Linked DNA regions of Homo sapiens: regions 1, 2 and 4 are each linked to region 3. Evidence: fine-mapped expression QTL. A gene starts in region 3. Each other region holds a variant in brackets. All regions are shown on one strand. Distances are between the middles of the regions.

The links. PIP is the estimated chance that this variant, and not a neighbour inherited with it, causes the effect.
Region 1: its variant is fine-mapped to the expression of ADGRB3-DT in whole blood (TOPMed, PIP 0.98).
Region 2: its variant is fine-mapped to the expression of ADGRB3-DT in whole blood (INTERVAL, PIP above 0.99).
Region 4: its variant is fine-mapped to the expression of ADGRB3-DT in esophagus muscle (GTEx, PIP 0.99).

Annotation. Positions count from the first base shown.
Region 1 is chr6:68,608,382-68,614,715 of GRCh38, forward strand. No RefSeq gene overlaps it. Among named protein-coding and RNA genes, the nearest start is that of ADGRB3-DT, 23 kb to the right of the region's middle. The variant T/C (reference allele first, on the strand shown) is at 2,688.
Region 2 is chr6:68,741,563-68,746,562 of GRCh38, forward strand. All of the region lies in intron 3 of ADGRB3 (adhesion G protein-coupled receptor B3), which reads left to right. Among named protein-coding and RNA genes, the nearest start is that of ADGRB3, 110 kb to the left of the region's middle. The variant C/T (reference allele first, on the strand shown) is at 2,946.
Region 3 is chr6:68,631,101-68,637,434 of GRCh38, forward strand. It overlaps ADGRB3-DT (ADGRB3 divergent transcript), which reads right to left and starts at 3,224. Exons shown (of 2, transcript NR_125872.1): 1 at 3,085-3,224; 2 at 1,563-1,956. ADGRB3 (adhesion G protein-coupled receptor B3) reads left to right here and starts at 4,182. Exons shown (of 32, transcript NM_001704.3): 1 at 4,182-4,900; 2 at 6,291-6,334. It overlaps LOC127898563, which reads left to right and starts at 4,790. Exons shown (of 1, transcript NM_001414704.1): 1 at 4,790-4,867. The coding sequence starts at 4,790. The coding sequence ends at 4,867. RefSeq lists a silencer at 3,921-4,130.
Region 4 is chr6:68,663,469-68,668,468 of GRCh38, forward strand. All of the region lies in intron 3 of ADGRB3 (adhesion G protein-coupled receptor B3), which reads left to right. It also overlaps the pseudogene LOC124901511. Among named protein-coding and RNA genes, the nearest start is that of ADGRB3, 31 kb to the left of the region's middle. The variant C/T (reference allele first, on the strand shown) is at 1,995.

The DNA of each region.
Region 1 (6,334 bases), 23 kb before region 3:
CCAGGATTCACAGGTCCAGGAATCAAGGGATGAAAGTGGAAGTGGCACCATTCATGATCACCCCTAGTGATCCACTAGCAAATTTTTGCTTCCTGTTTCCATGAAATTATGTTCTACTGGCCTAGAGGTTGTAGTATCAGATGGAGGAAGGCTGCTACCAGGAGACACAACAATCATTCCATTAAACTGGAAGTTAAGATTGCCACCTGGACACTTTGGGCTCCTTCTACCTTTAAGTCAACAGGCTAAGAAAGGAATTACAGTGTTGGCTGCGGTGATTGACCCAGGCTATCAAGATGAAATCAGTCTACTACTCCACAGTGGAGGTAAGGAAGAGTACTCATGGAATACAGGAGATCCCTTAGGGTTGCTCTTAGTATTACCATGCCCTGTGATTAAGGTCAATGGGAAACTACAACAGCCCAATCTAGGCAGGGCTACAAATGACCCAGACCCTTCAGGAATGAAGATTTGGGTCACTCCACCAGGAAAAAAAAACCACAACCTGCTTGCTAAAGGCAAAGGGAATACAGAACAGGTGGTAGAAGGTAGTAATCAATACCAGCTATGACCACGTGACCAGCTGCAGAAACGAGGATTATAAATGTCATGAGTATTTCCTCCTTCTTTTGTTAAAAACATGTTTGTGCATGTATACACTTGTACTTAAAACAGCTTCATTTTATTTTCTTCTTCCTTTATCATGTGACATAAGATTTATTTATTTCACTTCAGCACTTAAGTATTGTTAACTTTATGGAATAGCATTTGATTGGGGATTGGTGCATTTCTGGTTGTACAAAGGAGAGTTGTATTAAGTTTGATGTAATTATGACATTATTGTCTTTATTTGAAGGTGATGTATGATCTCTGGAGATGTGCATGGGTTCAAGTTGACAAGAGGCAGACTTGTAATGGTTAATACTGAGTGTCAACTTGATTGGATTGAAGGATGCAAAGTATTGATCCTGACTGTGTCTGTGAGGGTACTGTCAAAGGTGATTAACATTTTAGTCAGTGGGCTGGGGGAGGCTGACCCATCCTTAAATCTGCACGGGAACCATCTAATCAGCTGCCAGTGAGGCTAGGATATAAAGCAGGCAAAAAAAAAAAAAAAATGTGAAAAGGCTAGACTGGCTTAGCCTCCCAGCCTACATCTTTCTCCTGTGCTGGATGCTTCCTGCCCTTGAACATCAGTCTCCAAGTTCCTCAGCTTTGGGACTCGAACTGGCTTCCTTGCTCCTTAGCTTGTAGACAGCCTATTGTGGGAATTTGTGATCGTTTGAATTAATAATACTTAATAAATTCCTTTATATCCTATTAGTTCTTTCCCTCTAGAGAAGCCTAATACAGGTCGTATTCAGACAAATTCAAGTATCAGACAAATGGTCTGAAATTTTTGAAAAATATCAACACCAACATCATGAAAGGCATAAATGGAAGGGAGTGGCTCTTCCAGATAAAAGGAGACTACACCTAAATTCTATGCTTTATATATCACTGAAGTCTGAATGTTTTATAAAAGTTATGAAGAACATTATTAGGAAATTTAATTTTTTCTCAAAATAAACTATATCTTACTGTATTATTATTAATTTCTTTTGGTTATTGTGGTGGAGTTATAGGACTACATTTCTCACCACTACTAAGTATTTTATGTTGTGTTTGTGAATTATTACAGTTCTGTCATTTTCTCAATGTGATCAATAAGCAAGCATTTATTTAGGGCCACAAGGGGATTCTGGGGCTTAATGACAAATCACAATAATTCAGAATTATATACCAAAAAATGGCAAATTCTATGGTATGACAAGTGCTTTTATATATATATACACACATATGCATGTCACTGGATATATGTGTGTGTGTGTGTGTGTGTGTGTGTGTGTGTGTGTGTGTATCTCACTGGAGATTCTATTAAAAGGCAGATTCTGATTTGGTGGGTTAGCAGTGGAGCCTGAGAGTCTGCATAATGTACTATGGGCCCTTGGATCGCCAGTTTAATAGCAAGGAGTACAGACTGAAAGAGCTCTAACATAAATAAATTATAAAGAATTGGAGTAGTTAAGAAAGCCTTCATAGAATAAAAGAATCTTGATATTTTTACTTTTTTCAAAAATGAAGGGGCAAGGTGTAAGACAGAAAGTTATAATAACTGTTCATTTCTTCATTCTTTACCTCGTGTATCTTCTCAGCAGCTGGCATGTAAAAGACACTATGTGCAACAGTGAGGGCAGTGTTTTGATTCATTTTAGTGTCTCTCACAGTGTTTTATATAAAAGATGAGTTCAGTGAATATATTTATTGAACCCAATTTAATTTATGGCTAGGGAATAACCTGGAAAGGGAATTAGAGAGAGAAATTATCATGATGCATTTGTGGGTTGGTAAAATAAATAGTTCCAACTCCAGAGAAGCTTAATGTGCCTGGAAGGAGAGGGTGAAAAAAGATTATGAAACGTCTTGAAACAATAACAGAGAAGTGCGCATTTTGTGTAGTTGAAGTTTTCTAAATTGCGAAATAAGATTCTAAAAATAATGTTATAGGACATTTATTCTGGCAACAAAAAACAGTCTTGATTGGAGAGGTGCAAAGTAGCCAATGGGAACCTGCAGCATAATCCAGAGCACCTGGCTCTCCTAATTTACCAGTCTTCTGGCTTCAATCATTTCCTTTGCCATTTTCT[T/C]TTTGGTCTATATCAAAGATTGAGGAAACTAAGTGTCTTCTAATTCCAGGACACTAGGTCATTAGTAAAGATGAGACCTTGGTCATCTTTTTTCTTTGTCCATATCAAAGCTCTTATATGCATAGCTGATATATTTTTAACCTTTTACAACTATCTTTTAAAATCAACTTCTTGTCTGAATTGTTGATAAAAATTCAAGCTGGGCAATTATTGAGGCTAGCCTTTTAGTTACAAACATTTAAAATCCTCCATGGGTTACATTTAAACCTGTTAGTAAATATTCACATGCAGATTGTGAATAATTTCTTCCTCTCCATGTTTGCATTTTCCTTTTCTGAACATTGTCTTTTGATGAACCAAATTGTTTTTAAGAATAATTTATCCACTTTTTATCCATACCCAATAAAATATTGGAAATTGTCTAGAGACTTTGGAAAGGAAAATACAGATCCTTCCCTAACAACCCTCAGAAGGAACCAACCTTGCCAACACCTTGATTTGAATTTGTATGCTTCAGAACTGTGAGATGATAAAGTTCTGTCTGTAAGCCACCTAGTTTGTTTTCCTTTGTTACTGCAGCCCTAGCAAACAATAAAATACAATTTGTGTGCATAAAAGAAAATAATGACCTAGAGAGATTAATTAACTCATCCAGGGGAATACATCCAATGATATCAGAACTTGTTCTCAAACTCATTTATCTCTGATTGTGAAGGCCTTGCCCTTAACCACTGTACTACATTGAAGAAGTGTAAATAGTTAATAAACACATGAAAATAAGTTAATCCTCACTAAATGATATTTTAAGAAATGATTTGTCTTAATTTCATATCAATAGAAAACTATTTAAATACTAACTACTGCTTGGTAGATGGTTTATTAAATTGATCACTATCTCTTATTGTTATTTAGAGTAGAAATTAACACAGACTCATTTATGGCATTTGATAAGTTGGCAATATAAATATATGAAAGTCCTTAGACATGTTTATCATTTTCACTCAGAAAGGACTTATTTTTAAATATCAGTAGAACTGGGTAAAAAGTTTATCACTGCAATATGGTTACTAGTACCAAAGTACTGAAAACATTCAAAATGATCACACATAGCGGAAGGTTTAAACAGATTATAGCACATTCATATGATGGAATTTTATGTGGCCATTAAAATGAAGATGTAGAAAAAAGTTTTTAAAGAAATACCAAATATATATATTTTTAAATGTTATTGGTAGAAAGTTTTAATTTTCATGAAAGAAGTGAGAAATATATAGTAAGATTTAACAGATGTTAAATTTTACAGTTTGAAATTTTCTAAATTGGGGAATAAGATTTTAAAAGTAATGTTTTAGGACAATTATTTATTTATTATTTAGTCTCAAAGATTATTATATCAAAAAATAACACTCAACGGATAGCTTTAAGAACATTCACACCACTCTCCTTTTTTCTGTCCTCCTTTTCTGGTGGTAAACCCTATCTTGAAACTGTTATGTTTGTTTTCTGTGTTGTATATATAAAATAATTTTGAATTTTAGGATTACATAAATGGTTTCATACTCTAGTATCAGCTTTTCTATTCAATTGCTTTCAAGTTGAAAGGCAAAATATATCACTTCAATGAAGCATTTAAATTTTCTTTTCCACTTAAGAAAGTATGTTACAAAATATATACAGGATGATACAACTGTGTACATATATTCTCATGTATTTATGCATAGGCAACAATATGAATAATTGTAAACAAAAATCTTATTTTGTTTAGTTCTGAATATTTTCTTCTTCAAACTATGAACTGTTCATATTTTTTAAAAACAAACATTCCTTGTGAAATTATATATATACATATATATGTAATTTCTGTTCACAACTCTAAAGAATCTCATTCATAAATCAAGAAATATGCAACATGAAGAAATTATTCACCCATTACTATTCTGTAGAAGAAAGTGATGCCTAAATTTTAGTCTCCAAAATAAACTTTAATTTATAAGCTGAAGTGATTTAAACATATATGAAACCTGTATCACCATATATCATCATAATTTATTTGTGGAAATAAGTTAAAAATGGGACACATTAGTCCACTAAAGAAATAGTTATAAAGAGAAACAAAATGTTCAAGTAAATATAAGGAAAGTATGGGCAAACCTAAAAAGTAATGTATAGTTAAGAGAAAATGACATTAAACATCTGACTTTATTAATAAGATAGTAAAATGTTTCAAAAGTGTCAACCCATGAACAGAGACTTGGAATAAGAAAATAAAATGATTTTAATTATCATGGTGTTTATTGAAATAAGATAGTGAGTTATCTGATAAATCCCAGAAACCTCTCATTTGTGTGGTAAAATGTAACACAATGGCCTGAGAAGAGCCTGCAACAGCTCAAGGAGTCTAGACGGCAGCTTTTAGGGCACAGAGCACAGTGGTGCCCTGGAGGACAAGGACAGTTTTTTTGTTTGTTTGGAAGCTCAGTGTTGGGCCACATAGTTCTCTCTGACTGTATCTTCCATCAACTCCCCTTTTCGTTCAAACTTTCTTGTACCAAAAACACAGTAAGCAAATGTCTATCTAGCTCATGCCTTGGCACTTATTATCTCTACCATTTCAAATACCTCTGGCTTCAGATACAAGACGGATTGAATTCCTTATGGTGAAGCAGGTTCACTGTGCCCCAGTATCAATTCCAGAGGAGGACTGTAAACACCTCACCAATACCATGGACTGGTTTTAATTCACTTGTGTGAGTTCAGTGGAACAGCACTCATACAAACAAGTTAAGTGAAGCAACTTCTCACTCACAGAGAAGTAGTAGGGGACAGTAAAAGCCTAAGACTAATGGCCAGCTGTTCAGGAAGGCTGTCCAGGGCAGATGGAGTCTTTTCTGCATGTGTCTCACATTGTGCTGCAGGTGAGAGACCCTGAAAACATTCCTCGCTGGGTTTTACACCCCAGAGTACCTTATGCATTGGGCTAAATTGTTCTGGGGGTACAGGAACAGAGCTTGGGCTCTTCCAGCCACTTCCCCTTATCTCAGGATGTTGCATCCACAGCATATTCTACAGTTATTCTACCAACTTCAAGGAAGAAAAAGGGTGGGGAGCCTGGTCAGCCAAGGTCACACAGAAACTGTCCTGCACTCACTACTTTGGGTCTCTTCTCAAAGACCACAGAGGCCTTTCTTGACCACTTGTAAAAAACAGCTGACCCCACCTTCTCCGTCACTCTCTACTCCTCTACGTGGGTTTACTCATAATCATAGCACTTAGCACCACATGGCATATGCATCTAGAGATCTGAGAACTTTTCTATTCTGTTCATTGCTGTATCACAGGACCTAAAATAATGCTTGGAACATAATGGATGCTAAACAAATATTATCAAATCAGTGGTGAATGTATAGGGTATAATAAAGGGAATGGAATTCTAAGTTAGATTTCAGTCTATTTGGAGCCTATCCATAGATCCCATGCTAAAGTGTCTCTTTTCCGAAAACAGGTATATTCTTTCCTATTAAAACATTGTATTTGGAATTTTTAATTATCTAGTAAAATAAAACAATTTAAAACATTTAAAATTTCGTATGTCTTCCAATGATCTCTAAACTATAAAAATGCAATTTGCATTTTATATTTTCAAGAGG
Region 2 (5,000 bases), 110 kb after region 3:
GTTTTTGCAGAGGCAGGGTTTCACTGTATTGCCCACGCTGGTCTTAAACTCCTGAGCTCAAGTGATCCTCCCACCTCACCCTCGCAAAGTTCTGAGACTACAGGCTTGAGCACTGTGCCTGCCCTGGCCTTCTTAACCACTGTTTGTTACCTTTTCTATCATAAGTATAGAAGAGTAATCTAATATCAAACTGGCTGATTAAGGTGACAGGTTGAATTATTGTCATCAGTTTTTTACAACCTAAACATTTTTGCTTCTGATGAAATGTTCTTTAAAAATTCTTTTCAGCATTCCTTTTTGCATTCTTCTTCTTATAACGTTTTAGCTAAATATGCAAATTCATTATCATTCACGAGTTCACATGTTGTTTAAGTAGGAAGGACCACATGGGAAAATTCATAAAAACTTTGAACACAAGTTTCTGTGTTAAAAATGCAAAGAACTGAATGTTCATATATCTTTTGTTTGAAGAATTTAGCTTAAAATATGAAGAAAACTACATGGAAACACTTTCCCTGAAATAAGTTAAAATTGTGATGTCATTCACTGACTATTATTGCTTTGCCACTGACTTCTGAAGAAATCCTAGGAGATAAATTGCTTGTGGTGTTTTCTCCCCAGTCTTATCACAAGTCATTGCTAATGAGTGGCTTCTTCATGATGTAAACTAGTTTCAAATTCAGCATATATTGTAATTCTTCCAGTTCTCATTAAGCACACTGTTTATATATTATGTCTCAACATAAATATATGAATGGAAATTTAATCCTTTCTATGACAGGTCATACACATTTTAAAGGAACTCTTATAGTTTTTTTTTTCTTTCTCTGGGTCTTGACTCTGACAGAGGGGAAAAAGAAAAATAAAAGCACTATCTATATTAATCATTCTCAGGAATAAGGCTGATTCTTTGAAAAGTGAGTTGTTATAGTTGAAAGGACAGGTTTAAAATTTGGATTAGAAATTGAAACCTGACTCCTCTGCTTCCCACATCTGCACCACCCAAAGAAGTCACTTACTCTCAATAAACAGAGAATAATAAATGCCTACCACATAGATTTTCTGTGAAGGTTAAGTTAGAATAAAGGAGAGGTGAATATTTCACCACAGTATTTGGCACTAAGCAGGGAATCACTAAATGTTAAATCATCCTAAAATATTAATTGAAGTCTTAAGAAATAATGTGATAATAAAGTAGCCACGTAAACTTCTAGATATTGTTTTTCCTCAAAAAGGAAAATAAACTAAATGGTGTGAACATTAAAACATCTATTAATATTTTATATAGTGGGATACATGTAATTTTAATATATTTTTTATAATTTTCTATTTTTTCCTAAATTTTATGTAATAAAGATGTATTTCTTGTATCTTTTTAAGCAACTATTTTTTCACCCCTGTTTGGAGTTCTATAGTACTTGTGTTTATTCTTACAGCTCAGTTTACCAGATATGACTAGGCATGCGTATACGTTTTCTGATATATCTAGGCTGGATTTCGTGAGCTCTTTCAGTCTATAGAATCACATTTCTTTAGCTCAGAAATTTGCTTCAATTAAATATTTAATTATAGATTCTTTCTCTGTTCCTTCTTTTATTGTTATTCCTATTACTTGGGTATGAGGTCACCTGAATATATCTGCCAAGTCTCATCTTTTCTCTCATGTTTTCCTTCTCTTCTGGATCATTCAGGCTACTGATTAAGATCTCAGCAATGACTGTGCTCACCTTCAATATATCTTCTGATTTCCTAAGTTGAGACATCTGAATCTTCTACTTGTTTTTTTTTTTGTGTGTGTGTGTATATCCAGAAATTCTTGTTAGTGGTAGATTTGAAAATGTTTAAGTGCTCCATTTTTTTTTTCTGTTCGGGAAGTTTCCTGACTTTCCAAATAGTTTGATAACCCATGTTTTCTTAGACATGTGTTCTATTTTTTGAGGCTGAACTTTCCTTCACTATTAATTGTGTGAGTGTATATATGCATGTTTGTATCTTCTTAAGTCAGCTCTGGTAAAGTTGTTGGGTTACACTAGACATAGACATTCTGAAAAGAGATAAGGAAATTCACTAAAAAGGAAATAGAAATTCCCCAAAATATGAGAAATAAAACTGACACTCAGAACTTGCCAGAAAAATGCAAATTAAAATGAAACTTAATTTTACACCAACAAGTAAATTTCTGTTGAGAAATTAAGAGAACTAAATAACAGAATTGTAGCAGTTTTGCAGAAACTGTTAATTCTGTTATATTGTTAATTTTGTAATTTATGTTAATTAAATAACAGAAATTAAGAATCATAGCGCTAATGTGTAGGGAACAGAGGACTGCTTAGAAACTGCTGGTGGAAGTGAGAATGGTTAGAGCCCTCCTCCTTTTTTTGTGAAACAATCTGGAGTCTATTAAAATTTAAAACACAATATATGTATATATGTATATATATTTTATTTGTAGAGTATCATACACTCATGGAAAAATGACAGGTTGTTTTCATGGGTAAAAGGTTTGTACATGAGTGAAATTTGACAAGTAGTGTTGGAAAGAGATGGGGAAGAATAGAGCTAAGAATGAAGGAAAAGAAGAAAACACACATTTTATTTTATCTTGAAGGCTTCTATTTTACTAATTGCATTTATAATACAAAAACAGAACTTTTTTTAATGAATAAATATATCAAATAAAAAACAGAGAGGATGTGAAGAAATAGGAATGCTTTACACTGTTGATGGGAGTGTAAATTAGTTCAACCATTGTGGAAGACAGTGTGGCAATTCCTCAAGGATCTAGAACTAGAAATCCCATTTGACCCAGCAATCCCATTACTGGATATATAACCAAAGGATTATAAATCATTCTACTATGAAGACACATGTATACATATGTTTATTGCAGCACTATTTACAATAGCAAAGACTTGGAACCAGACCAAAAGCCCATCATTGATAGA[C/T]TGGGTAAAGAAAATGTGGCACACATACACCGTGGAATACTATGCAGCCATAAAAAATGATGAGTTCATGTCCTTTGCAGAGACATGGATGAAGCTGGAAACCATCATTCTCAGCAAACTATCACAAAAACAGAAAACCAAACACCACATGTTCTCACTCATAAGTGGGAGTTGAACAATGAGAACACATGGACACAGGAAGGTGAACATCACACACCAGGGCCTGTTGGGGGATATGGGGTTAGGGAAGGGATAACATTAGGAGAAATGCCTAATGTAGGTTGTGGGTTGATGAGTGCAGCAAACCACCATGGCACGTGTATACCTATGTAACAAAACTACACGTTCTGCACATGTACCCCAGAACTTGAAGTATAATTTTAAAAAATAGGAATAAACAAAGAGAAATATAAAAAGAACCCAATCTGAAAATCTAAGTAAAGCAATTTTGTAACAAAGCAGGAATAGGCCTCAAATACAATAAAAAAGATGGAAAGTGCCCCAGGTCTCCTATTACCTATAGCCTGTGGGTGAGTGGTTACACTATCTAAAAATCACTATGCTCCAGCAATCCCACTTTTGGATACACTACCAGAATAATTGAAAGCAGAGTTCTGAGGAGATATTTGCACATCCATGTTCACAGCAGCACTATTCACTGTAGCCAAGAGGTAGAAGCAACCTAAATGCCCATTGACCATTGACAGAAGAATAAACAAATTGTGGTGTATACATACAATGGAATATTTTTCAGCCTTAAAAATGAAGTAAATTCTGTCATAAGCAACAACATGGATGAAGCCTGAGGACATTATGCTAAGTGAAATAAGCCAGTCACAAAAATATATTGTATGATTCCACTTATATGAGGTATCCAAAGTAGTCAAATTTATAGCAACAGAAACAATGGTGGTTACCAGGGAATGGGGAAATAGGGAAGAGAGGAGTTGTTTAATGAGTATAGAGTTTCAGATTTGCAAGATGAAAAAGTTATGAACATCTGTTTCCCAACAATGTGAATGTAACATTTAAAAATAATTAGTAAAGTTTGTTATGTGTTTTTTACCTGAATTAAAAAATATTCTCAGTAGATATTCTGTTCTCCCTTCTGATCTTCATGAATTATATATATATGTCATATATGTAATCTTATTTATTTTGAAATAAATGTATTTTCTTATTTATATTGTATATTAATATGTATATTTGTATATTTAGAAATGAATTTAGAATGTACATATATGTGTATATATCCCCCCACACACATATTTAGTTATGGCTTTCCCTTTGATGTGAGCTTATCATTTATTTTGTTCTGTAGCTGACCTTTTCCACTTCACAATATAACACAGCTTTCCTTCCATGTCTCCTTATTGCGATTTGTAATAATGATACTGTTGATGATGATAACTTTACAATTATTGAAACCATAGTATTTGCCAGACACTGTTTCCTATTATTTTATTGATGGGCATATTTATTGCAAAATTGCTACAGTAAACAACTGTAAAAATTTTCTCATGGATGTATTTCTATGAGTAGAATTCTGCATCACAGATATGAACATTTACATTTTTTCCCATTTTTAAATGTTAGTGCTGCCAAATTAGCCTCCATAGAGCTTGAAAATATCCTTTCTGGTATACTCTTGCCAACGTTGCCTAATATAAATTTAAATAATTTATCTAAAAATTTTAAAATGTTTACTAATGTAATTTTTAATATATCACATTACTATTTTAATTTTTCTTTCTTCAATTCCTAGTGAGGTGAGAAGCTTTTCTTATGTTCATAGGTGATTTGTATGTTTTCTGACTACCTCTTGTTTGTATCCTTAATTTACTTATCCCTTTTTAAGTTATTATTTTCTTCTTATTGATTCACAAGAGCCCTTTCTATAACTATGTTTAGGAAGTATCTCACTATAAAAATGTTTATAATTTTTATATAATCAAATAAACTGGAATTTGTTTGAAATACATGATACTACATCATAATTAGAATCCTGTTTCTCATATCTTAATAGAATTCATCCCATTGTGACTTGTGACATGG
Region 3 (6,334 bases):
TGAGAAAATAACTAGCTGAAAAAGGTCAAATTTGGGGGTGAATGTATGTTCGATTGCAAACCCATATTTTGAGGTTTTAAAGTCCATATTTTCCAAGATACTTCTACAGCACACAAATATGACATTATGTGTTACCTACTTACAGCATTTCCTTAATATCACCAATGAAATCTTGAAAATTGATGGCCAAAAGTATTTACCGACTTTTTTTTAACTTGTATCGTTGTATAGGGAAATAATGATAAAAAATGGAAACCTGATGCAACTGGGATTTTTGTAACCTTGACTTTGCCTAGCATGGAATAGGACTACACTTGAACTAACCCAGGATAGCTGTTCTATGACATCTCCCTTAACCCCAAGTCTATCCCTTTATTTTTTAGTACTTCAATGTACTTTCTATTCTGGGATGTCCAAGTAGAAAATGACCAATTTGTTTTTTTACATAGAGACTAGAGGATATACAGCTTGGTTTCTGAGAGACTTCCTTTTTTAATAATAATAAAATAATGATAATAAACAGGAGACAGAGGAGAAGAAGTTGTTTAACTTTATAGTAAATATGCTAATATTAAGGATAAGTTCTCATAACAATGTAATCTTGTAATATTTTGATCATTTAATTAACATTCCAAAGCTTTGTGTATGTGTGTGTATATATATGTGTGTGTATATATGTATGTGTGTACATATATATGTGTATATATATATGTGTGCATATATATATATGGGAGATACTAAATACTAAATACTAAAAACTAAATACTAATACTAAATACTAAAAAATTAAGGCATATTTAACAAGAAATAACCTACAAACCTATCCATGCTTCTTAAAGCCTTACTGAAAATAACAAGTCACAGAGTTTAGAATGTGGTAATACAGTAATATCAGAAAAACTATGACAGAAAGAAGGAAAGAGAAAATACTTTCTAAAATTGAGTAAACATATTCTAGAAACATTCTTATTTGAGTATGAGAATTCTGCAAATGATACTGAATTTTAAGCAATGATCCTGGATTATAGGGTTATTCTCAAAGTGGAGGGACTAAACTTAGCACATACAGACAAAAAGATGAAACAGAAATAAATCACACTTATAACCTCATCATTCCAAAGTAATCTTAATAAAATAATAGCAGGAGAGATAAATTTGAAAGGCTTTAATATTAGATACCTGGGTCAATTTAAAATGCCATACCAGACTATATTTTGATGTGCTAACACTGACCTCTCAATAGTTCTTCTGTAAATCATCAAGGAAACTTATGTAATAATCAATTTATACAATTAATGTGGTAGTTTTGGAATTAAATGCATTACCTTATAAAAGAGAAATACAAAGCAATGTAGTGAAACTTCCCAAGCAAATATATGTGTATCAACTGAAATACACATATACATATCATATACATATATATACACACACGTGTATGTGTACTTACAAATAATGCGTGCATACATATACATATGTATGTATAAAATATGTGTATATGTGTTTATATATGTAAACATAAATATAGACATAGACTTGTGAAAGAGACCAATGAAAGCAGATAATTATAATTTGAAATGGTGATTTTAATATGTATTCAGTCATAAAAGTGGACCAACATCAATAGAAAGGAAAGGACAGAGAGCTGAGGGTGTGTAAACTGCTGCTCTCTTTTTGCTGTTGGGTCAACATGTCAGCAATGCTTTCATATGGAGCAGCTTGCAGACATGAAACAAGGTGGTTCCTCCTTTCTTTGCCTTTGGATTGTGCTGTTGTTAGTGTCCAGAGACCAGACTGTCCATATAGGGTTCTTTTTGTGATTCTTTATTATAATCCCCTGAGGAAGTCAGACGAGCCTGGGGTTACTGGAGACAGTGTCTTGCTTGGCGTAGTTATCATCCACAAATCATCTGCTATAAATATATCTCAGAAGGATCATCATCAGGCCAGCTCAGTAGCCTGCAATTTATGAAGGTTATGAGAAACAATGTGAAGGGTGAAGCGCTTTATTAAGGGTGGCTTTCTTTTCTGACCCTGCCCTGACTTCTACTTGAATATAAATGATCCTGGGAGTAAGTGAACCTTTCCATTTAGGATTTAGGCTTTTAAATTGTCCCTTTCAGCTGTTATTCTTATGCCACTGTGTCATGACTTTAAGAATTTCTAAGAAACATCAAAATCAGTGTTACAAGATAATATGAGAAATCACTAGATGCAAAATAGAGGTATAACTGAACCTCACATTACATTCTTTCCTTTTTATGTATAAACCATCCAAAGCATTTTTTCCTCCGTTTTTATTCCACATCTGTCATGCTTTTTTTTCCTCTGGATAAAGTAACAGAACTGACCAAATTGCCTTGCGAAAATCATAATTACGATCTCTAGGGAAGTTGAAATAAATAAAATGTTTTTCTCCTTTGTGTTGCTCAATGTTCTTTGTTTTTAAAAGAAAATGTGTTGCTTAAACGGTGTTTCAAAATTTGTTCTGGACATAAACCCTAATTATTTCCTTTTAACATTTCCTTAAATGAATAAAAAATATTGTAAAGAACCAAAATGACACAAAACCAAAATGCCACCCAGGCTGCTCTCTTGCCGGTGATTTGTTACTGGGAAAATAGTTAAAGCCTGCTGGGGAATTATTAACTGTTTCCCCTTACAGTGTTTATCCCAGGCATTCGTTTAAGACGGGAAAGCCTTGAAGAGGGTCACTCTATTAATATGCATTAAGAAGTAAAGGACCAATTTTAATATTTCAAACAACTCCAGTGGATAACAGACCATAAACTTCCTGTTTTCACTATCAATCTCTTTTAAAATGGTGTTCTTGGCTATCCATAATCGCCCCAGGGGAGAGAAACAAGCGGAGGAAAAAAATGCAAGAGTGAGGGGAACAAATGATGGAAAATTGCTTTATTCAACTTCACCTGCCGCTCGAGAAACTCACCCTTACGAAGATTCCAGCACTTTATATGAATTACCCATTATGGTTTCCTCCCACCACATCACTGCACTATTTTAGCACTTGTTTTGCAAACCACCAACTGCGTTTACAAGTAGAAACATAATCAGGAGGCGAATGACCTTTTGTAGCATGTATCTGAAGCTGGTTTATCAGACACTTCGTCAGCCAACTGTCCAGGAGGCAAAATGACTATCTATGATGATAGATAGACAGACAGATAGATAGTTAGATTAAAAGGTGGGGAAACATCCCTTTTCCCTTTTTCCTTTCTATATAATCTGGTTTTTTCTCTTCACCCCTTTTCTCGCTTCTTCCCACCCCGTCCCCAAACCTGTTACTAGGGAAACTTGAAAAAGAATCAGATACATTAAGACTACAAAACGAAACAAAAGTTTAGACCCCGAAACCATGATTCCATTGCCAAGCACAAAGCAATGCAAGAGCCCAACGTCGGTCGCCGCACCGCGATCCTGACAAAGCCTGTATGGAGCCAGAACAAATAAGATGTTAATTGCAGCCTCGCAGAGAAAAAAATACTATTGTTCCAGCCAGAGACACTCAGCAGCTCGGTAGCTGGGATGTGCCCCCTCCGCTGCGGACTGGATCAATTCTGAATCCCGGTACTGAAATGACAGCTCTCTGGCTGCGACAGGTCTGCGCTGAAAGAAAGAGAAAGACGATCAAGTCCAGCATTCACTTCCCACCCTTCAGAGTCGCCTTCCCATCCTCCGCACCCCCCTGCCTCGCCTCCCAGTGAGTTTCTCTTACAGTTGGTCGCCGCCAGCCCCAGCGGTGGGAACTGAGGATGCAAAAACCTCCCAGACGCAGAAAATACCGCTTTCGGGACGTGCTTGGGTTTGAGTAGCCGTGACGTGCAGGCGAACCGCGGCCCTGGCTGGAGCTCCGTGGAGCCCCCCTCCCGCCAGCCTCTCCCCCGCCCTCCCGCCGGGACTCCCTCCTCTCCCACCCCGCGGCTCCCTTCGCCTTCTCTCTCACACACCCGCCCGCGCCCCCGGCAGGCAGAACTCCAGGAAGTCGCAGCGGCCGCGCCGCGCGAGCCGAGCCTCTGGCGGGCGGCGGGGCGCACCGCAGCTGTGCATAAGAAGGGCGCGCGGCACCCGGGACGCGCGCGCACACGAGCACGCGGGAGGCCGCCGCGCGGACGCGCTCCCGGGACACGCGCACCCCCCGCGCGCGCGCCCAAGGGAGAGCGAGCACTGCGCGCCGGCGCGCACACCCGAGACAGAGCTTTACTATCTCGCTCCCTCTCGCGCCTCCCTCCTCGCTGGGCATTCAAACAGCTTTCCGACATCACCAGCCAAGGATTTTTTTCCCCGCTCTCCTTAGTCGCCGTCCGTCCATCAGTACCTGCAGGGGGGAGGAGGAGGAGGGAGGAAAGCGGAAAGAGGAAAAAGCATAAGCTTGAGCCTTCCGATCCGACCACGAATACTCCTGTAATAAACCCACCGCCCCAACAAATCTGCCATAGCAGCCGCCGCCGCCGCCGGTCACTTCTCGTCTCAGCGCTTTCTTTGCTTCTTGGTTTGTTGGGGGTAGCTTTTATGAAACAAATCTTTGCTATTAAGCCACTTACATTTTGGGGGGTTCCTTAGAGTCTCCCTTGGGGGGGCTTCTCCCTCCCTTTAGCCCCCCTCGGTTTGGAGGTTGGATTCAGTTGGATACGGCGCAAGGTTCTGGGCTCCTGCTGGCTTTTTTTTCCTCTCTCTCATCGACCCCCCTTTGGTTCCCACCCCCCACCTTTTGCTTTTCGTATGTATGCATTTTTAAAAATAAATCCTGATTTTGGAAGCTGAGCCGGGGAAAATGGGCAACGGTGATTGGGACCGAAGGGGAGTCTCTCCGTCACTGTTGCTGGGACGCGTGCCTGTGCTGGTGTCTTAGAGCAAGAGCCTCCCTGAGCTTTCGGAGTGGAAGGTAAGGAAGGGGGTCCAGGGGTCACCTTTTCTCTGCCGGGGGTCGCCACCGTGGAGCTTTGGGCTTAATGTTTGAGAAGGGAGGAAAATGAAAGGAAAGGCTGTTGCTGGCGGATGGGGAGGCTGTGAGCAGATCCGACTGTCTGCATTTACTTAAACGCCGCAGTTGAAAAGTTAGAGAAGTCTGGTTTTCAAGAGATGTGCTGGGTCAGAAGGAATAAGCGGAGAGACCTAGAAAATCTGGCAGTTTTGTGTGATTGGGGTAATTTTATGAGGGGAAAATTTTAGGTTAAAAGGAAGTTAAGAGAAGGCAGTGGGTCTTCTATTGGGGGGAAAAATCTGTGGAGTGATGGCGCCGTCTATGTTCGACTAAACTAAAGTGTCACCCAGAAAATCAGTTTTGAGAATAGCTAAACTCAATGCTGGTTTGCTTCTCAGCAAGAGATAAATAAATAAATAAATAAATAAATAAATAAATAAAACATCCTTGACACCTCCGTGGCCAGCCTTTGCCCCCGCCCCCACCCCTTCTTTAAGAGGGAAACACGGCTTTTTGAACGGGCCCTGCAGTCCAAAGGGGGGTGAGGGTAATGATTTATTTTTTATTATTTAGAACAAAATAAGACTGTGTACTCCAGACTGATTAAAAATAAAGAGCATTATATTGAGTGCGCTCTCTTGAGCAGGCATTAAAGTGAATTCAGAGCTATTTCCTCACTCTCTGATCATTGATGAGCACGGCATTGCAGACATGCACTGTCAAATAAATGAAAGCAAAAGTACCAATTTCATTAGGAAAAGACATACGACCTCTTTTTGAGTTCCTGATTATAAAATGAAGTCCCCTTTCATGGATGGAATTCCTAATTTAGACACTTATTGTCACATTGGCTCTCAACGCCTACACTCTATCCTGAAGAACACTGCGCAGACCTGCATTGCCTGCAAAGTGCAACACCAAAAAAAAAAAAAAAAAAAGGAAATTATTTCCAGAATTTCTTACAACTTTCTCTGTTTTTTTTTAACCTTTAAATGCTCATTGGCTTTATTTTCTCATGAAGAAAATGCATTATTCATTGAGCTATTTGCTTGAAACAGAGAACACTGTTTTGATGGTCCCAGCAGTTCTGATGTTATTTTAAACTGCTGCTATATAGAGATTTAGAGTTGGGGCTGTGTTTGCCTATATCAAGACATAGAATTTGAATTATAATCTGGAAAATGCAGATCTATCTTCAGGGACTTCGGTCACTGGATTTGGTGTGCATGCGTTGGTGTGTGTTATGCAATGGGAAGGAAGAGGGTTTTATCCTTTGATTCAGAGAAGACCCAGGCAAAGGCATGAAAACTCTTAACTATCTATATGTCTGTATGTCTGTCTCTGTTTACAGAACAGTGGAAGAGACTGCAGCCTAAAGACTTTTAAAATTAACTT
Region 4 (5,000 bases), 32 kb after region 3:
TTTGAATTTATGCAACCAATTTTGTACCTTTTTAAATTGTGTATATTTGCTTAGATCTGCCATTACTATCCATGTGTGTTTTGCCCATAGAAGGCAATGCATTGTAGAACTTCAGGGTTAATATGAAAGAAATATTTTGCTTTAAAGAATCGCCTGCTTCAATTTTTGCCTTCATTCCTTAGGAGCCATGAATAGAAACTTTTGAAGCTTTGAATAGAAATAATTTTAAAGTGGCAGAAATTCTACAACTATCAATGAGCAAGTTGCCTTGATTTCATCATGACTTAAATATGAAAAGCCGAAGAGAGCATTTGGCTTTCTACTGTTTCTTCTTCATCTAGAAACTTCGTTATTAAATATGTGAAAGTCAAATATGATTCAAGTATTTTAGCGTGCTACACATTGTGATCTTTAGAGTTACATTATCTATAAATTACAAGTAGCCCAACTAAAACATCTGCAGTGTGGTATTTTTGTGCAATTTAATTTTCACTAAAAGCATGAGAGTCAATAGGAAAGTCACCATCAGCAAAATTGAATTCAGAAATTTCATTCATGGGATAAAAGGATTATTTTAAAATGAGTCGAATATGCTGAATGATATTTGTCGTTTTTAAAATGATAAGTGTTCTCATTTGTCTTAATTTACTTTTATTTCTCATAGCATCCTACATTTTTAGAACGTAATAAATAATTTTAAGCACATTTTTTATGGTAACATCATTACTGAAAGCTGATGTACCCTCATTCTCAAATACCGATTTTTTTTTAGTAGTATGAAAATGTTTGAGATGTGTTTGATATTATATTTAGGATAAAATATTGTTAGAGATTGAATGTTTTTGCCATCCTTCAAATTCATATGTTGAAATCCTAATGCTAATGTGATGATATTTGGAGCTGGGGACTTTGGGTCACAATTAGTTCATGAGAATGGAACTTTCGTGAATGAGATTATTGCCCTTACAAGAAGAGGTCAAAGAGCTCGCAAGTTCTCTTTCTGCCATGTGAGTCATAAAGAAGTCAATGGCTAAGAACATGGAAGAGGGTCCTCACCAGAACCTGACTATGCTGACAACCTGATCTCAGACTTCTGGCTCCCAGAACTATGAGAAATACATTTCCTTTGTTTATCAGCCACCAAGGCTATTGTGCTCTGTTACACCTGCCCAAACTGACTAAGATAGATACCTCTGAATCCTACTATTTTTATGCTCTTCTGGCCTATATAAGAAAGTTGTGCAGAGAGTTAAGCGTGCCCAGGGATTCACAGTGGTAGAATGATGATTTGAACCCAGGCTGTCTCCAGAGCCTTCACCACTGTACTTTACTGCCTCCAAATATTTGTCTGAAATATTGCATAAGGGAGGGTGAAGGGGGCTTTTGGAGGGAAGTGAGCACAAGGAGAGTGTGGCTGACAGTGAGTGGACTGCAGCAGCTTCCATCAGAGTTTAGTCTTATACACATTCTTACTCAATCTTTGGGTGGGAGCTCATCTCTCAGTTTTTGGTGTTCATGTACTGTGTATGTAATTGGATTCGATTCTTTAAGTCACGAGATCTCTCCCCTCCCACCTTCACCAGGCTTCACCTTCAGCCTTCTTTACTGGCCAAGATACTTTAGGGAATGCTGTCCTTCTTGAAAGGTGAAGAGTGAAGGACCACTCTTTATCATCACTTCTCATTTCATGGTATTTTGTAGGTTCTCGGTGCTCTACACGTTCAGAGAAACTTCTCTAGTAACAAACTATAGAAATGATCCCTGAAAGTATAGTCTTGGTATTTTGTAGGTTCTGTAGTTTGTGTTTTGGGGTCATGGTATTTTCATTTCTTTGCTGTAAATGGATAGTTTTTCTTTCTCTTTATATTTGTTTTGTTGTGCCAATTGGGTTTCAAGAGTTGGAAGAAAAGATAAAAAAGATGCTAATTCTTTGAAGTATTTAATTGGAGTCCAAAATATATTCCTCAAAATAATTTTATCTAAATTAACATTAT[C/T]GGACCTTAGGTATTTTGGTATAACTTGAATATCTCTGGAGGAAAACAACAACAACAATAACAGTGCCTATTGCACAGAGCTCTGTTGGGGTTTAATGGAGCTGACCAACATATGCAAAGTGTTTAGACAAGTACCACATACCATGATAGTTACACGATAATGTTAAACTATCATGAACATCATCATTGCTAATTGGGGCTTCATTTTTCTAATATTAAATATGTTTTTGCTTGGATATCTCTTTAAATTCTTCAAATTAATAACTATAAATACTTTATTCTGAATATACTAATTAGGGAAATAAAATATTTCCAATAATTTATACTTATGATTTGGATTATAAGTTAACACCTTTGTATTCATGTACAGAGCTCTTATGTTAAATACTATAGTAATATAAATGTATATCACATAAACATCCTATATTAGTGTCTAAATTTTGTAATCCCAAGATTAGCAGTGCAGTATGATCTCTTAGAAGTTTATCTAACATCAAATGATAAATAAACATAATATTTGGTTTTATATAGTGACATTTAACTATTTTGGTGTGCATTCCATTTGGAATATATTCATGGGATTTATTTACCTCTGACCTTAGGCGAGACACTTCCTATCTTTGAGTGTCATGTTCTTCATTAATAAATATCTCATAGACAAGATCTCGAATCACAAACTAGCAGACCTGAGTCTACCTGAAGAAACATTTTGATGTATTAGCTCAGTGTTTAAGGCATGTTTGAAACTTAAATGCTTTCAGTCAGGGCATGGTGTCACTAGTTCCTTCAGTCTCTGCCACTCAGAATTAGCTCATGTGTAGCCACTTCATACATTTATGCTAGTTGTGTGACCACGGAAGGAATTTGAGATTTTGGCTCTTGACCTATATCTCTATGTTCTCTTCCACCATTAAAGTTGTCTATTCATGTGACTGTTCCCATTTAGAAGAGAGTTGAACAAATGGGTCCTTTTTCAATCCACTTGTCCCTATCATTACACTTTTTGATGGATACCTGTAATTGTCCTAGTCCCCTCAGAAGAAATGCTTTCTTCTGTTCTGTTGACACGCAAGTTAGTCATAGGTCCCAGAGAATAACATTGTGGTTTTTGTAAATGCTCATTGTAAAGTCTATCAAGATATTTTGAGAAAAATTTTATTCTTAATTTCTCTGAAATTAAGAATTATAAATAAAGTAGCAAATTAAAATTCTACCTTATCGTCTAATTTTGTCATTAACTATTTTTATTTCTTCTTAGAATAATTTTTGAAAACTTATTAATGTCATAACTAGAACTTATTTTGAACTTAATAAATGTAGTTGGATGACTTACCCTAAAAAAAGAAATGATAAATGACCTTGATAAGAAATACATGGAATTTTAGTGGCCAATGATTGAGATAATGGGATAATTTAAAGGAAAGTGTTTTGTACTCTCTGAAAAAAAGTATCATATCCAAATTAATGTGGTTATTTTTAGTTCTCTACAAATATGAAGTTGACCCACTATTCTTAGTATTAATAATACTACTTGGAAAATTGTAGTTGTCATTCAGTAGTTGTAATGGATTACTGTATAGTCAAACTGCATTATAAACCATGCCAGAATATATAGAATTATATTATATATAGAACATAGAGCTGGTACTTTTTTAAACTTTAGGGGAAAATGTAATGTAACTTTTATAAAATATAAAGATCAAACTGGTATCATTGGCTAAGTTCAACTTATAATCATAATTGTAGAATGATTAGAAACACTCCCATTACTTAAAAGGAAGGAACTTGTAAGATTTACAAGTGATTATTTGTTCATAGTGCAATTCAGCTAGAAATTTAATGTTATAGATTTAAGCAAAACCATCAAAGCTACCTGGTGGTTTCACAGTTCTACTAAACCTGGATGTGCATGCTAAAATGCTAATTCATAGGTCTTCCCCTGCTTAGTGTCTATAGTTCTGTGTCTTCTCTTTAACCTAATATTATAATCTTGAAAGAAATTTTAGGAATGATTCCAGTCTGAATTTATATCCGTAGAACCTGAGAAAGTCAAACAATTTTTAGAATAATATGTGTTTCAGATAAATATTTACATCAGTATAATAAATAGTTCATTCATAAGAACAAAATTTCATAACTAACTTTCTTCCAGGAAAACAGAAATTTCTGAGACTCCAAGGTTTTTTTATACCTAGGATCCCAAGCTGCATGTTGTTATTTTTGCCATATTCTATTTGTCAAAATAACTATTATAACAAGGCCAGCCCAGATTCAAGAGTCAGTGAAACAGAGCTGTAAAATTTTCTTGCCATGTTTTCAATTAACTATATCATGTGATATACTTTGGCCACTGGTACACTGAAAAATGTCTGCGACTAGGGCTAGTGTTCTGGAAAATAAGAGACCACAGGAGAGAGGCCCCACATTTAGAACAATCCCAGCTACACTGAACAATTCCAGCCACACCAGCCTCGGACCTACATATATGACCATCCAGCCCTAGCAGAACATCCTGGGGATCAGAACCACCGAGCCAAGCCACATAACCTTGTGAAACTATAAATGTTGATTGTTTAAGCTACTAAGTACCATGTAGTATAAGCTAACTGATGATAATCCCCTTTCCTGCAAGTTAGAGAACAGGAAGTTACCATGTAGAATATTGGTTCCAAACTGTAGCAGCTGCTAGAGCCAAAAAACTGAAGCCTCATGCTAAATCTTTTCATAAGCATCAATAGTGGAATGATCCCCCAAAGGACAAAATGCTTTCATGGCCATCTTTATGGCAGAAAAAACATCTCTCTTTCAAATCTTGTATAACAGTGTCTAATAAGCTGAAACTAAATCACATCCGGAACCCTACCGACAGGGAAGTCTGCAAAATGTAGATTTTAGCCCTTCAAAATTGACAGCACAGGAATTCATATTAGGAAGCTATAATAGACAGTGAGCTCCAATCCATCATATCTGCTATAATCAGCACAAGTTCTTTTTCCTTTGGTAATT